Linked DNA regions of Homo sapiens: region 2 is reported to be linked to region 1. Evidence: microRNA targets listed by miRTarBase, many of them from high-throughput screens and not tested one by one. Region 1 holds a microRNA gene; the other region holds the end of a gene's coding sequence.
The links. The annotated mature microRNA hsa-miR-218-5p reads UUGUGCUUGAUCUAACCAUGU and lies in region 1 at 4,744-4,764, shown strand. An mRNA with a match to its seed (bases 2 to 7 or 8) in the 3' UTR can be bound and repressed. Matches are read on the target gene's strand: a 7mer-m8 pairs with bases 2 to 8, a 7mer-A1 pairs with bases 2 to 7 and ends in A, and an 8mer does both.

Region 1 (8,132 bases):
TAGGTTCATTTGATCACATGACTTTTGTTATGTGGTAAAACCCCACATCTCTAGCCTCTAATTCCTAAATTATTAAAGTTAAAATGTTAGTGTTGAGGTGAAAAGAAATATATTTCTTGACTGGGTTTCCTTAAAAAGCACAAAATCTTGCAGGTGAGTTAATAAGATGCTACACTTTAATTCTACAACTATTTAATCAAACAGATTATTGAATGCCAACAAGATAAACTGCCTTCGGGTAGATGCTTTTCAGGATCTCCACAACTTGAACCTTCTCTCCCTATATGACAACAAGCTTCAGACCATCGCCAAGGGGACCTTTTCACCTCTTCGGGCCATTCAAACTATGTATGTATAAGTGATTTGGATCACTTTTGATGACATTGTTTCCTCTCTGAATGTAAGAGCTGAGTCCATTGCAAGTCATCTATAAAACTGTTCTGTATGTGTTTCCAAAGGCATTTGGCCCAGAACCCCTTTATTTGTGACTGCCATCTCAAGTGGCTAGCGGATTATCTCCATACCAACCCGATTGAGACCAGTGGTGCCCGTTGCACCAGCCCCCGCCGCCTGGCAAACAAAAGAATTGGACAGATCAAAAGCAAGAAATTCCGTTGTTCAGGTAATTTCTTCACGTGTTATTTCCCCTGTGACCAACAACAATGGTTACATGAGACCTAACAAAAGCAGCTGGCCTTCGGCTGATTAGTGAACACTGTAGAATCATATTTCTTTTTCTTCTGCCCATGAATAATAAAATAAAGAGGACTGTAGACCCAATTCAAATAATACTTCTATATGTAACATTTTAACACCATATACAGCAGAAGAAATAGGCAATTGACCAAGTTAAAAAGATGCCTAGATACTTCATAGTACCTTTCCAAAATTCAAACTTAACCAGAGCCTTATAGCTAACTCAGAATACCTTTAAAGTATGTTAAGTCTCATGTTTGTTGAATTGACCAGCCTCAAGTAATTAACTGTGTTTTCATTTCTTCAGAAAGTGAATTGAGACTTGGTTACATGATTTGTTTGGGCTCAGAAGTACAGGGGCGCCAGGAGGGACTCCAGATCCCTTGCTTCTTACTCTGAATGCACTTTCTCAGTTTGCATTCTCTTATTTTGCATACAACCGTGAGGATGCGTTTTTTCCAAAAGCTATTTTTAAAAATATTGTGGGAATATTGCATTTATTTGTAAAAAGCTAAATATGAATGCATTGTATTGATATTAAATGAAAGGCTGCCATCATTCAAATTTACTGTTTGCTTTGATCTAATATTTTCCTTTTTTATGATAGAATATTTTATGTCTTTTTGGTACTATGCTACCTAACTATTCCAGGCGTATTTCACATTCGGCAGTTAATTTCATACTAAAAAGCTAATATAAGAACCAAGCTGGTTATTGTCCATAATTATAGATGCATTTACTACTCACTGTACATTATTGTACTTCAGTCACAGCTGTGAATATACATTTTTCACTTAATTGCAGTAACTTTAGTCCATTCTTAATCTAATATAACTCATATCTCTGCTTGCTGACATTCAGGTGCATCTTCTATTTTTTGTCTCTTTTTTTATTTAGCTAAAGAACAGTATTTCATTCCAGGTAGGTTTTGCTCGGTAGTAGGACTAACTACAGACACCCTTTCCTCACCTTATAAAATATAGCTTCTAAAACTGATATGCATGCTTCTGAAAGTACAGTGGATACTCTATAGATAGATTGACTTATGCATATATCACTTGTAGCTGTTTCCTGAAATCCTGACCTTTGCATGCAGCTTCTGATGTTAAACATATATTATTAAACTCCACCTTTTCTTCTCTTTCTTTTACTTTGGCGCATTATCTAAAATTTCTCACAGTAGCTAAAATGTTTGAAGCTATGGCTTTCTACTTAAATCATTTTCTCTCCTTACATTGTATATCTGATCTTCCAACCTGTTTTTAAAATATAGCTAATTGAGCTGGTTTTAAAGACAGAGATCTTTCTGATGTCAAAGAGCTAGTTCTACATGAAATCAGTTACACACAGAATTTCATTTTCAATCATGAAAATTACTTTTTTATAGATTCTTATATTTAAAAACTGTACTTATTGCTTTACTTTTGCTTCACTGTTTATAGAAAAACAGCAACTCCCTGCTGAATTATATGCAGTTGTTTCTTATTTGTTTATGACTTTACATTCTTCTATATCCAGAATTACAATATAACTCCATAAAAAAGAATATTTATGTGTGATGTGAAAGCATCAGAAGTTCATGGGCACAAAATGCCTTGAATAATTTAGGCAGATGGATAAAATGTTTCTAAGAAAAGTAATCGCAATGTTTTACCACTTCAATCGTAACACTATCAAGACTGATGATTCTAGAACTAGCTCTTTAAAATACGTTTCTTTACTTATTTTTCCTTGCCTGCCAATTGTGTAAAATGCCTCTTGACTTGTTTGTTTTAAACCATTATGTTAAGTATCGATTGGCCACATTCACCGTCTCTTGGGTATATTCTAGACTATAAAAAATTTTAAGAGCTATAGATTAAAAGATATTTCTACAGCGTTAGTGTACAGAGTTAGTCTAACTTTCCATATTTTCTTAAGAAGAACTCTGGGTTTAGTCTCTATTTTAAGGAGATATTTGTTAGCTTGCCATTATTGAATTACAATTTGTATAATTTTATGGATTTAGTAGATTTGGTGATATGACTTATTTTGAGCTTGAATGATCAATAGCATTGTATATTATTATACTGGCTGCATAACAAGTAACATGTTGAAAAGAACAGTTGATTGGCCTTCATTGACAATGTTTAATATTAATTACTTTACCCAATTAAGTGGAAAGTAATCTGATAGCTATTATTTAACCAGAAAAAGCCATATTCTAAACACCAGACTACCTATAGAATAAAACATTAATATGATTTAAATCCTAAAATTATGGCAGTAATGTAATTGGTATCAAATTATTCAAACTATTTCATTTAAATATACTTAATTAATAATTGGTAAGTTTAATATTTCCAATTCACTAAATAAAGAACAAAAGTCAGGTTGTTTTCATATATTCTGATATAGTTTTTCCCTGTTACTGACAGCAGCCAAAATAGGATTTGGAAATTATCTTTTATATCAAATATCATGTCTTAAGTTTCAATTTATGATAATTTAATTTACATTCTTTAAACATGATAATTGTAGAAGCCAGGACTCAAAAGGATCATTTGGGCTTCCTCCCCTTTTTTCCAAAAATTTTAATTAAAATTTGAGTCCACCTAACAAGCCACCATAAAATAAGCATTATTACTGTTCCGTTGAATGCAGATTATTTGAATTGCAAGATATCCAGTGTACCTGTCACTTAGACTTTGTGCACTCTTATTTCATTTTGGAGTGAAGCATAAATCATAAGACACCAGATCCTCAGTAAATATCATGGCATTAACTGCCAAATGTAATGAAACGATTATATTTACCATCGCAAACTTCTTATGAGATTCTGATTCCATTTCCACTAAGACACATTATTTATAAGTTGAAAAGTTCATTAAAAAGTGTACATCACAACATAAGGATTAATCCAAATGTTGTAATGATTGTCCTTGAGGATCTCCATGATTAGTTTTTCATTCACTTTTACGTGTGTACCTCGCTACTACCATTTTATATGGCACTCTACATATTACAGTGATAAAAGAAAATCTGTCTTGCAGAGAGTTCATCTTTTTTTTTTTGGAGATGGAGTCTCGCTGTCTCCCAGGCTGGAGTGCAGTGGCATGATCTCGGCTCACTGCAAGTTCCGCCTCCCGAGTTCATGCCATTCTCCTGCCTCAGCCTCACCGAGTAGCTGGGACTACAGGCGCCCGCAACCATGCCCAGCTAATTTTTTGTATTTTTACTGGAGATGGGTTTTCACCCGTCAGGTGAAATGGTCTTGACTTCCTGACCTTGTGATCCGCCCGCCTTGGCCTCCCGAAGTGCTAGTATTACAGGCGTGAGCCACCACACCCGGCCTTGAGAGTTCATCTTTTAAAGGAATCAAGAACTTAATTTGCACTATGCATCTTTTATTACATTGGTTTTCTTGTGAGACCACCGTGCTTCAAAATATTATTTATAAAATTTTACAAAGCATGACAATTCCCATCACATCATGCTATTTTTTCAATAATTCCCATAATAAAGAAAGAAGGAAGAGAGCTTAGTTTTATAAATATGTATATTAATCTTAATTGGGATTACTCTTTCTTTCCTTCTTGGTGATCTTTACTTTTGCAGGAATTCACCATTTTGGCTGTAAGTAAAAGTGTCTGATCTGAAACATAATACCCTCCCTTTTCAATCCTGATGTACCTTCTTCTAGTCTTGGTCTTTGGCACCTTTTTTTCAAGAAGAAACCACAGATCTTTTGAGCTTCTCTGTTGTCCTTGTAGCTCACCTTCAACTTCTTCCTGGATGTTGTTCCCGAAAGCTGTTGTTTCCATTCTGCAGTTCTGAGGAATGGTGGAGGCACCTTTTCCATATAGCCCCTTCTTTGTGTTTCCAGGAAATCATCGGTAGTAATACTCTTACTGTGGTCATAAACATTCTGCGGGAAGAATGCATGTCATGTAAACAGTATTACGTTTCCAGAACGTCTGTAGCTTTTCTCCTCCTTCCCTCCATTTTCCTCTTGGTCTTACCTTTGGCCTAGTGGTTGGTGTAGTGATAATGTAGCGAGATTTTCTGTTGTGCTTGATCTAACCATGTGGTTGCGAGGTATGAGTAAAACATGGTTCCGTCAAGCACCATGGAACGTCACGCAGCTTTCTACAGCATGACAAGCTGCTGAGGCTTAAATCAGGATTTTCCTGTCTCTTTCTACAAAATCAAAATGAAAAAAGAGGGCTTTTTAGGCATCTCCGAGATTATGTGAGAGGGAGAGAATAGTAAAAAGTCCATAGAAAATTTAAAAGCCTGAGTATATCTATTTGCCTTGAAAGCCCTAATTTACAATGAGATATAGGATCATGTTTATTACTGGATATATTTTCAATTCTTGACTCCGAGAAAAAAAATAAACTTTTTAATAATTAATATCCATTGTGTGACTAGCTGTGAAGTAGGCTAGAATGACTCAGAATTGGATCAGCAGAAAGTACAGCTGTGAAAAGCTCAACTTTATTAATGTTTTCCTGTCATGTGAATCTGGTCACTCTTTTTTCCAGAAAATTCCAAGCCTTTCTTTTAACCTTTCTCCTGACATCCATTGACCAAAATACCCCAAGTTGTCTCCCTGCTACATAATCTATAGTTATCTTACTTTTTTCTTCCTACAAACTAATAAATTTTCTAACCTTTAGACTCAGTATCTTTTTTTTGGTTTGAATTCTCAATAGGTACAGAAGATTATCGATCAAAATTAAGTGGAGACTGCTTTGCGGATCTGGCTTGCCCTGAAAAGTGTCGCTGTGAAGGAACCACAGTAGATTGCTCTAATCAAAAGCTCAACAAAATCCCGGAGCACATTCCCCAGTACACTGCAGAGTTGTAAGTTCATCCCCCAACAAAATTCTGGTTGGGATGGAGGGAATGAAAGCATTAAAGCATAAGAATGTTTGTCTTGCCATTTTTATTATTAATAATTGCATTAATTTTAATTAATATGCATTACATTGGCATAACTCTATTTTGTACAAGAATATATTAGAGGCTACCTTCATTCATCTTTCTAGCCAACCATACGATTAAGTACAGAAACTAATTTATCTCTCAAAATTCAGTAAGCACTTCATACTAATAACAATGGTATTTATTTGATGCTTATTTATTGGGTATTATTTATTCCCAATTTGTTTTCTAAGTACTTAGTTTTTAACGTATTTAATTCTTATAGCAACTAAATAAAGTAGTTTGAGAGCCTCCATTTTCAATCTCTGTAAACTATCAATAGATTCAAGGAGTCTGTCTTACCTAATTTACTACTTCATTGACTTACGGGCAGAAGGATTCAGTGGTTATCAAGTATTAAAGTAGAAAGGATAGCTTTTTCTGAACAATGCAAGAAAAGCTGAAAAGGCAGAATATGATGGTATTTACACTTAACAGCCTTAACATAGGACCTTGCACATACTAAGTGCTAAGGTGTTTGTTGGAGCACTTACAGATTCTATGCCCATGCATGGTTTGCCTTTACTGACTTTATTTATAAGAAGAGGACCTTTAATGTTAGTGTTCTAACAATTCAGGGAAAAAACTAGCAAAACCTCATCATTCTCTAAACATCTTAGCCATGTTTATATATAGCACCATCTGGTATTTGTCATTTACTGCTTTGCAAAGTTCGTTGTCTGTTTGTTTGTATATAATCCTTCCATCTTTAACTAGATTATAGCTCCTTGATGACAGGGATTGTGTGTTATTGTTTATCTCTCACTGTGCCTATACTCATGCCTGTACTTAATTAATTTTTAGCAATTTGAATAACTAAAAATAAAGTAATGCCTTTCAAAGAGTTGACAGAAACCCACTATCTTGTAGTTATAGTGATTTTTTTTTTTTTACTCCTATTAGTTGATGAAGCTATTTCACAGCTCCAGGAATTTTAGAAATGCATGGAGTCCATGCAACCAAGGCCCTGAACTTTATTTTTTATAGACATATAGGGATTTATGCTTATTACCTATAATACTACAAACAAGTGATACCTTCCAGCACAATAGTACTTTTTTTTTTTTTGAGACAGAGTCTCACTATCTCACCCAGGCAGGAGTGCAGTGGCACAATCACAGCTCCCTGTAGCCTTGGCCTCCTGGGCGCAAGGGATCCTCCCACCTCAGTCCCCCACCCCCATCTCCCCAAGAAGCTGGGACCTCAGGCATGCACCACCACACCCAGCTAATTTTGTACTTTTTGTAGAGATGGGATTTTGCCCTGTTGTCCAGGCTGGTCTTGAACTCCTGAGCTCAAGCAATCCTCCTGCCTCTGCCTCTCAAAGTGCCAGGGTTACAGGCATGAGACACTGCCCCTGGCCTAGCACTTTAAATAAGTTTGTTTGTCATGGAGGAATTATAGTGGAAACTAGCCTCCAATTTAGACTTCAGCAAATGTGTGTAATGTAAGAGATTTATAATTTTTTTAATTATATAATAAAATCAGTACTGAGAATAAAATATTTGCAAGTCATGTATCTAATAAGGCACATAATTCAGAATATATACAGAACTCTTATAATTTAGATTAAAAGGTATTTTACTCAGCTAATGAATGGTTAAATTATTCATATTGACCTTTCTCCAAAGAACATATACAAATGTCCAATAAACACATGAAAAACTGCTCAATATCATTAGTTATTAGGGACATTCCAATCAAAACCACAATGAGATACCATTTTAGACCCACTGGAATGGCTAAAAAAAAAAAACAAAAACAAAAAGGGAGAGTAACATAGTGGAAGAAATTGAAACCCTCATACATTGCTGGTCTGAATGTAAAGCTTCTATGGAAATCTTTTTTGCTATTTCTCAAAGAGTTAATCACGATTTACCATGTGATCCAGCAATGCCCCTCCTATGTATATGTCCAAAAAACGACAACATATATCCAGGCAGAAACGTGCACACCATGTTCATAGCAGCATTATTTATAGCCATCAAAGAATGGAAGCAACACAAATGCCTCCTAACTGATAAATGGATAAACAAATGTGTCATGCCTGTGTAATGAAATATCATTCAGTCTTAAAAAATAATGAAGCACTGCCATATGCTACAACAGGAATAAGACATTACACAAAGCAAAAGAAGCCAGACAGAAAAGGCTACATCTTACATGATTCCGTTTATGCAAAATGCCCAGACTAGGAAAATTAGTAAAAGCAAAAAGTAACCTAGTGGTTGCCAAGGACTGTGGGGGAACAGCCACCAGGAGTGACTGGTAGTAAGTATGGGGTTTCTTTTGGGGGTAATGAAAATGTTCTGGAATTAGATAGCAAAGATGGTTCCACAACTGAATTGTATGACTTTTAAAGGGTAAATGTTCTGGCATGTGGTTTGCATTCTAATAAAGCTGTAATTTTTGTTCCAATTGTGAAGCAAACGATTAGGGAAAAAACAGTCTAGAAATCCTTTTTAGTG
Region 2 (7,565 bases), not on the chromosome of region 1:
TTTTGTATTTTTAGTAGAAATGAGGTTTCACTATGTTGGTCAGGCTGATCTCGAACTCTTGGCCTCGTGATCCTCCCTCCTTGGCCTCCCAAAGTGCTGGGATTACAGACATGAGCCACTGCACCCGTCCCAGTTACTGCATCTTGAAGAAATCAGGCTTGGGGATGGGAGCAGGAAAACACATCACCCTTTTCAGTTATTACACAAAGCTGTGCACAGCAAGGCTTATTACCACTACACCTACCTCTCCCTTCATTCCTCCCTGGGTGGCCAGGGCAGGCCAGGAGGCATTGTGTTATTGGCTTAGGGGACCACCACATTCAGAGCAAATTCAAGCTACAACAGGGAGAAGCACCTGTTTTCCTAAGGACCTCAGACATCTGGATTTTAAGGAGTCACTAAATGGATTCCACAGATGAAGAGGACAGAAGAGTTAGTGAACTTTAAGATATATCAGTAGAAGTCATACAAACTGGAAAACAAACACATTAGAAAAATGAAACAGGAACTTCAGAGTCCTGTGGCGCAGCTGGAGTCCCAAAAGGAGAAAATGAGGAAGAAAACAACTTCGGAAAATTCCTGAGAATTGAAAGCAGGAACTCACACAGACACTTGCATCCAATGTCCATATTGTAGGGGCAACAAGATTTCACCTTCATCATCTTAGGATCCTTGCTGGGCCTGATAATTACACCGACATACGATTAGGTTAACAAGATTAAAGCATACACATGTATTTGTTTAATGAAAGTTTTATGTGGCATGGGGTTCCTCATAAGGAAACAAGCCAGAAAAGCAGTTAAGAGCCAAACACTTATAAACTGAATTGGACAGACAAGTAAACTGCGCTAATGGGATAAAACCAAGGGTGTGGGCTAGGGTGGTTAATCAGGTAGAGAAGTGGCTCAGAAGCCGTAGTGTAATGAGGTTGGTTTGGATAGATCTCCTTTGCCTCAACTTTGCATCCTTCATGCTAAGAATGCTGTCTTCAGGCTGGGCGCAGTGGCTCACACCTGTAATCCCAACACTTTGGGAGGCTGAGGCGGGCATATCACCTGAGGTCAGGAGTTCAAGACCAGCCTGACCAACATGGTAAAACTCCGTTTCTACTAAAAATACAAAAATTAGCCGGGCATGGTGGCAGGCTACTCGGCGAGTACCCAGCTACTTTGGAGGCTGAGGCAGGATAATTGCTTGAATCCAGGAGGCAGAGGTTGCAGTGAGCCCAGATCGCGCCACTGCACTCCAGCCTGGGCAACAGAGCAAGACTGCATCTCAAGAAAAAAGAAAAAAAAATCATCAATATCAGTATGATTCACAATAGCCAAGAGGTAGAAACAGCCCAAATGTTCATCAATAGATGAATGAATAAAACGTGACACATACATGCAACAGAATTTATTAAGCCATAAAAGGGAATGAAATTCTGATACATGCTACAACATGGATAAGCCTTGAAAACATTACTTTTAATGAAATAAGGCAGACGCACACAAAACAACGTATTTTATTATTCTACTTCTGACAAAATTCATGGACACTACCTACAAGTTACCAGGGGCTGAAGATAGAAGTGTTGAGGAGTGATTGCTTAATGGGTACATAATTTTTTGGAATGAAGAGAAAGATCTGAAAATGGATAGTGGTGGTAGCCAATATTGTCAATGTACTTAATGCCACCGAACAGTACACCTAAAAAATGATTAAAATGGGGCTGTGCGCGGTGGCTCACACATGTAATCCTAGCACTTTGGGAGGCCGAGGCAGGTGGATCATGAGGTCAAGAGATCAAGACCATCCTGGCCAACATGGTGAAACTCCATTTCTACTAAAAATACAAATATTAGCTGGGCATGGTGGTGCGCACCTATAGTCCCAGCTACTCAGGAGGCTGAGGCAGGAGAATTGCTTGAACCCAGGATGTGGAGGTTGCAGTGAGCCAAGATTGCACCACTGGACTCCAGCTTGGGCAACAGAACGAGACTCTGCCTCAAAAAACAAAAACAAACAAACAAAAAAACCCAGTGAATTTCATGTTATGTTTATTTTACCACAATTAAAAAATTATGAAGAAATAATGGCCAAATACTTCCTTGTGAAAGACAGTGACTCACGTATCTAAGAATCTGAAGGATCCCCAAGCAGAGTAAATGCACAGGAAACTGCACCAAGACACAGAGTCAAACTGTTGAAAACCCAAGATAATTATCTGAAGAGGAGCCAGTGACAAGCAACACATTACTTACATTACTTACAGGGGAATAATGTTAAGAATAACGCTAACTTTTAGTCAGCAACAATGGAGGCCAGAAGACAAAGAAATGACCCCTTTAAAGCATATCCAGACCAGGCGCGGTGGCTCACACCTGTAATCCCAGCACCTTGGGAGGCTGAGGCAGGCAGATCACCTGAGGTCAGGAGTTCAAGACCAGCCTGGCTAACGTGATGGAACCTCAACTTTACTAAAAATACAAAAATTTGCCAGGCATGGTGGTGCAAACCTATAATCCCAGCTACTCAGGTGGCTAAGGCACAAGATCGTTTGAACCTGGGAGGTGGAGGTTGTAGTGAGCTGAGATCATGCCACTGCACTCCAGCCTGGGCGACACTCTGTCTCAAAAAATAAATTAAAATAAAATAAAATAACATATTCAGCCAAAGTATCTCCAAAAACTAAGGTGAGGAGACTTCCAGGTAACTAAAAACAATGGCCAGTGAGTGGTAAGCAACCTCCCCAAATCCCCTTTCAAATGCTGTGAAGTAACTCCACACCTATGAATCTTCTACACAAAACTATACCTTCAACACTGCCTTTAAGACATAGAGAATGCCAAAATTGCAACATAACTATGAGTAAAATGAGAAAAAGCATTAAATCTTAGCACCACGGTCCCACACATGCCCACCCCAAGGCTCTGTTAGGTAAACTGCAAGAAAGAGGGATAGCTGGTGGGGGGGCCTGAGACAGAGCTGGAGCAAGACCCTCAGAATCATCTACCCTTAATTTGAAAATGCAAAAAAACAAAACAGAATCAAAACCCTGGCCAATCATAGGAGAACTGCAGGAAACAGACTTAAAACTATGTGTCATTTATAGGCCGGAGCAACTGTGTCTCACACTGCTAATAAAGACATACCTGAGACTGCCTAATTCATAAAGAGGTTTAATGGACTCATAGTTCCACATGGCTGGGGAGGCCTCACAATCATGGTGGAAGGTGAATGAGGAGTGCTGTCTGAATAGCCCACCCCTTAATTTGCATGTAATTAAAACTGGGTATAAATACTGCTAGCCAACAGCCTATATGCTGCTACCCTGGGTATACTGCCTATGAGTCAGCCCTGCTCCACAAGGGGCAGCCACTCTGCTGTGCCCTGCTGCTTCAATAAACCCAATTTCTTTTACTGCTGGCTGCCTCTTGAATTCTTTCCTGAGCAAAGCCAAGAACCCTCCTGGGCTAACCCCCAGTTTGGGGGCTCATCTGCCCTACATCATCAGCAGAAAAATAGAGACTCAAAGAATCAGAAGGAAAGATCAGAAATCAAAGCCACCATAAAGAAACGGAAGAATGCCTTTGATAGGCTAATCAGTCATCTGAACATGGCCGGGCGCGGTGGCTCACGCCTGTAATCCCAGCACTTTGGGAGGCCAAGGTGGGCGGATCATGAGGTCAGGCCATCAAGACCATCCTGTCTCACACGGTGAAACCCCATCTCTACTAAAAATACAAAAAAATATTAGCCGGGTGTGGTGGCGGGCACCTGTAGTCCCAGCTACTCAGGAGGCTGAGGCAGGAGAATGGCATGAACTTGGGAGGCAGAGCTTGCAGTGAGCCGAGATCGCGCCATTGCACTCCAGCCTGGGTGACAGAGCAAGACTCTGTCTCAAAAAACAAACAAACAAAAAAAAAAAAACAAAAAAAAACCACACAACTGACCAATGACCAGGTGTATGGGCTCCAGGCAGCATCCAGCTGGGTGTAGAAACCCCCTCCCACCAATAAACAAATGAAATAGAAAAACAAGCTGGGTGTGGTGGCACATGCCTGTATTCTCAGCTACTTGGGAGACTGAGGCAGGAAGATTGTTTGAGCCCAGGAGTTCGAATCTAGCCTAGGCAACATAGGGAGACCCCCATCTTAAAATAAATAAATTTAAAAGAAAAACAATGAAATATCCATAGCAGCTTAAACCAATAATCAGTTTTATTTTTTCTCATGTGATAGAAGTCTGGAAGTCCAGGGCTGCTGCAGACACTCAAAGAGGCCACAGGGGAGGCCAGGGTCGCTGTGAGCTTTCTGCAGTCACTTCCTTAGACTGTGGTTTTCATATGCACGGTCGTTAAGGTGGATCTTCCAATACTAGGTACTGGATCTCTTTGCAAGGTGAAAAGTAAAGCAAAGAACAAAACATACAGGGAGGAATTCATGTTTAAGAACGATCCCCATTCAAGAGCTTTCTCAGAAGCCCATGTGGTGACATCTGCTGATCTGTCAGTGGCCAGGGCTGTGAGACATGGATGGTACCAGCTGCAAGAAAACCTGTAAGAGATTTTTTAAAATTTAGATTAGCACACCTTACTAATCTGACAGAACCTGGATTCTCTTGATATTGGAAGAAGATGAGAGTGGATACCGGGGAAGTCACTAGAAGTATCTGTCACTCTTGGCTGGACAGCAGGCTGCAAACATATTACCACTTGATGGAGGCATCATGCTCTGGTCGCAATCCGTGTGCATCAGGTACCAGTAACAAAGTGGTACTGAGAAATATCCTCATGTCACATAGATCTCAATATGCCATTGGTCAAGGAGGTTGTCCAGAAGGAAATTAGGACGTTATCAAGGATGAAGCTATAGTAAAAATACTATAAACAAACCTTTCTTGATGAGGCTTAAGGGTTATTTAGAGGAGTATAACCTTAAAAATAAAGATGAAAAATTTATGAACGGGGCTCTGTTTTCATGATGAGAGAGTACGTGCAGTCCCGTATTCACCGGAAAATCTCGTTGGGGCTTCTCTCGGGGGGTCTGTTTCCGTGATGAAAGAGTAAGTGCAATCCCGTATTCACCGGAAAATCTCGCTGGGGCTTCTCTCCGTGAGAATATTCACATGCTCAAGTGAGGGGACCATGGCTGGAATCATTTCCACATAGGAATTATCAGCACTAATTGTATTTTAAAAGTTTTGTAAAAGAAATTTCTCCTAGCGTAAGTGCTCACAAGATTCATAAAAATGGAGGAATTGCTGCAGGCAGTAATTGAGGAATGACTGCATGATTATTTTCAACCTCAGCAACAGTGACGTTTGGGGGCACTAACTCTTCGTTGTGGGGGGCTCCTGTGTGCTGGAGCCGACTTAGCAGCATCTCTGATGTCTTCTTATTACAAGTCAGGAGTATCTTCCCCCCATTCTAACTACCAAAAATGTCTCTAGACATTGCCAAATGACGCCTAGACAGCCAAATCGTCGCCCGACTGAGAACCCGTGCTGTAGACCAAGGGTCGGCCAAGTTTTTCTGGAAAGGGGCAGATGACAGGAAGTATTTCAGACTTCATTGGCCACAAATTTTCTCCATCAAACATTCTTCTTCCTTAAAGATGGAACCACTATTGTTAGCTGGCAAGCCATACAAAGACAAGCAGCTGGCCGTGGTTTGCGGCCCATTCATGACCTTCCACGTTCCTTACTTCACTGATTTCTCTCTTTAGTGTGATTTCCGTCATGAGGAATCAAGTGAGACTAGGAAGGGTTTCCCCAGCCACTGTGTTTACAGAGATGCTCCCTAGTGTGCTCATTATTACTCATGGGCCCAGAAGGCTAGAAGTGGTCTGAAGTCATTTTGACATTAAATGCCACGGCTTGGATTTTGACATTAAATGCCAAGCTGCCATTAAGTCCTCCTGTGTTTGTTAAGAGCTGAATGTACCCTGAAGGCTTCTCCATGCTACAGACGTACATTTTCACCCCCGGCGTGAGTTCTCACAAACCTCCTATGGGATGAGAACGCCTCGTCTTCCCAGTTTTTACAGGAACTGGACTTCTCCCAAGTTCCGTGGATTCTTTTGCACCCAGTAAGGTGCGAGCTCACAGAGGCTTCCTCTTACACCCACGAGGTCTGTTTCCGGTCTGAATCATCCTGTGTCTCTAAAGCAGGCGCGCTCACTGGAGCCTTTTCCACACGGATGACACAAAGAGCTTCTCTCCCCGGTGAGTTTTCACGTGGCTCCTGAGGGATGAGTGGTCGCTGAAGGCTTTCCCGCAGACAAGGCATTCGTAGGGCTTCTCCCCGGTGTGGATCCGCCTGTGCACATTCAGGTTGGAGCCTATGCTGAAGGCCTTCCCACAGTGATCGCATTCGTACGGTTTCTCCCCCGTGTGGCTTCGCATGTGCGTCTTCAGCGTTGACTGGTTCCTGAAGGCCTTGCCACACTGCCTACACTCAACTCGTTTCTTTACAAGGTGAACGCTCATGTGCCTCCGCCGGGATAAATAGTCACCGAAGACTTTCCCGCAGGCGGCGCATTCGTAGCGTCTCTCTTGCGTGTGTATCTTCCTGTGTGCGGTGAGGTTTGAACTCGCGCTGAAAGCTTTCCCGCAGAGATCGCACCCGTATGGTTTCTCTCCAGTGTGAGAGTTCATGTGAGTCTTAAGGATGGACTGGTTTCGGAAGGTCTTCCCGCACTGCCGACATTCCACGGGTTTCTTGACGATGTGAATCCTCATGTGTTTCCTCCGGGACACGAGATCGCCAAAGGATTTCCCGCATTCTTTACATTCGTAGGTCTTCTCCACCATGTGGTTCTTCTTGTGCAAATTAAAGTTGGACTTCCAGCGGAAGGCTTTGCCGCACTGCGTGCACGCGTAGGGCTTCTCCCCCGTGTGATTCCTCACGTGCTCTTTGAGGTGGGAGGGGTGCTGGAAAGCTTTCCCACAGTCGTGACACTCGTAGGGCCTCTCTCCGGTGTGCGTTCTCTTGTGTGCGATGAGGTGGCAGCTCCGGCCGTAAGCCTTCCCGCACTGATCACACTTGTAAGGCCTCTCGCCAGTGTGAACTCGCATGTGGATTTTCAGGGCCGAGAGGGTCCGGAATGCATTTCCACACTGACTGCAGTCAAAGGGCTTCTCTTTGAGGTGAGTTCTTGCGTGGCTCCTAAGGGCTGAAGGGTCGTTGAAGGCTTTCCCGCAGTCGCTGCACTCGTAAGGCTTCTCCCCGGTGTGGATTCTCCTGTGCCGTGTGAGGGACGCGCTCGTGGTGAAGGCTTTTTGGCACTGATGACATTCATGCATTTTTCTCCCGTCGTACATGCTCATGTGCTGAGTGAGGTGCGGCCTGCCCTTGAACGCTACCCCATAGTCGCGGCGGTGATAGGGCCTCTTGCCAGCGTGCCTTCCCATTGGCTGAGTGAGATGAGGGTCCATGCCAAAGACTTCGAACAAGTGAGCGTATTCAGTGGACTTCTCTCCAAGACCGGCTCTTTCCTGTTGGTTAAGACGTAAGTGCTGACAAAGGCAATTCTCATATTCATTGCAACCCTAAGCGTCATCCCCACATACACTGCTAT

Region 2: miRTarBase lists ZNF317 as a target of hsa-miR-218-5p. The part of its 3' UTR that is shown has no 7-base or 8-base seed match.

The regions. Positions count from the first base shown.
Region 1 is chr4:20,523,556-20,531,687 of GRCh38, forward strand. It overlaps MIR218-1 (microRNA 218-1), which reads left to right and starts at 4,720; the gene lies at 4,720-4,829. SLIT2 (slit guidance ligand 2) reads left to right here. Exons shown (of 37, transcript NM_004787.4): 13 at 205-348; 14 at 459-622; 15 at 1,594-1,617; 16 at 5,394-5,544. RefSeq lists a silencer at 435-622.
Region 2 is chr19:9,160,031-9,167,595 of GRCh38, reverse strand. ZNF317 (zinc finger protein 317) reads right to left here. Exons shown (of 7, transcript NM_020933.5): 7 at 4,183-7,482. The coding sequence ends at 6,163. Among named protein-coding and RNA genes, the nearest start is that of OR7D2, 15 kb to the left of the region's middle. RefSeq lists an enhancer at 7,260-7,565.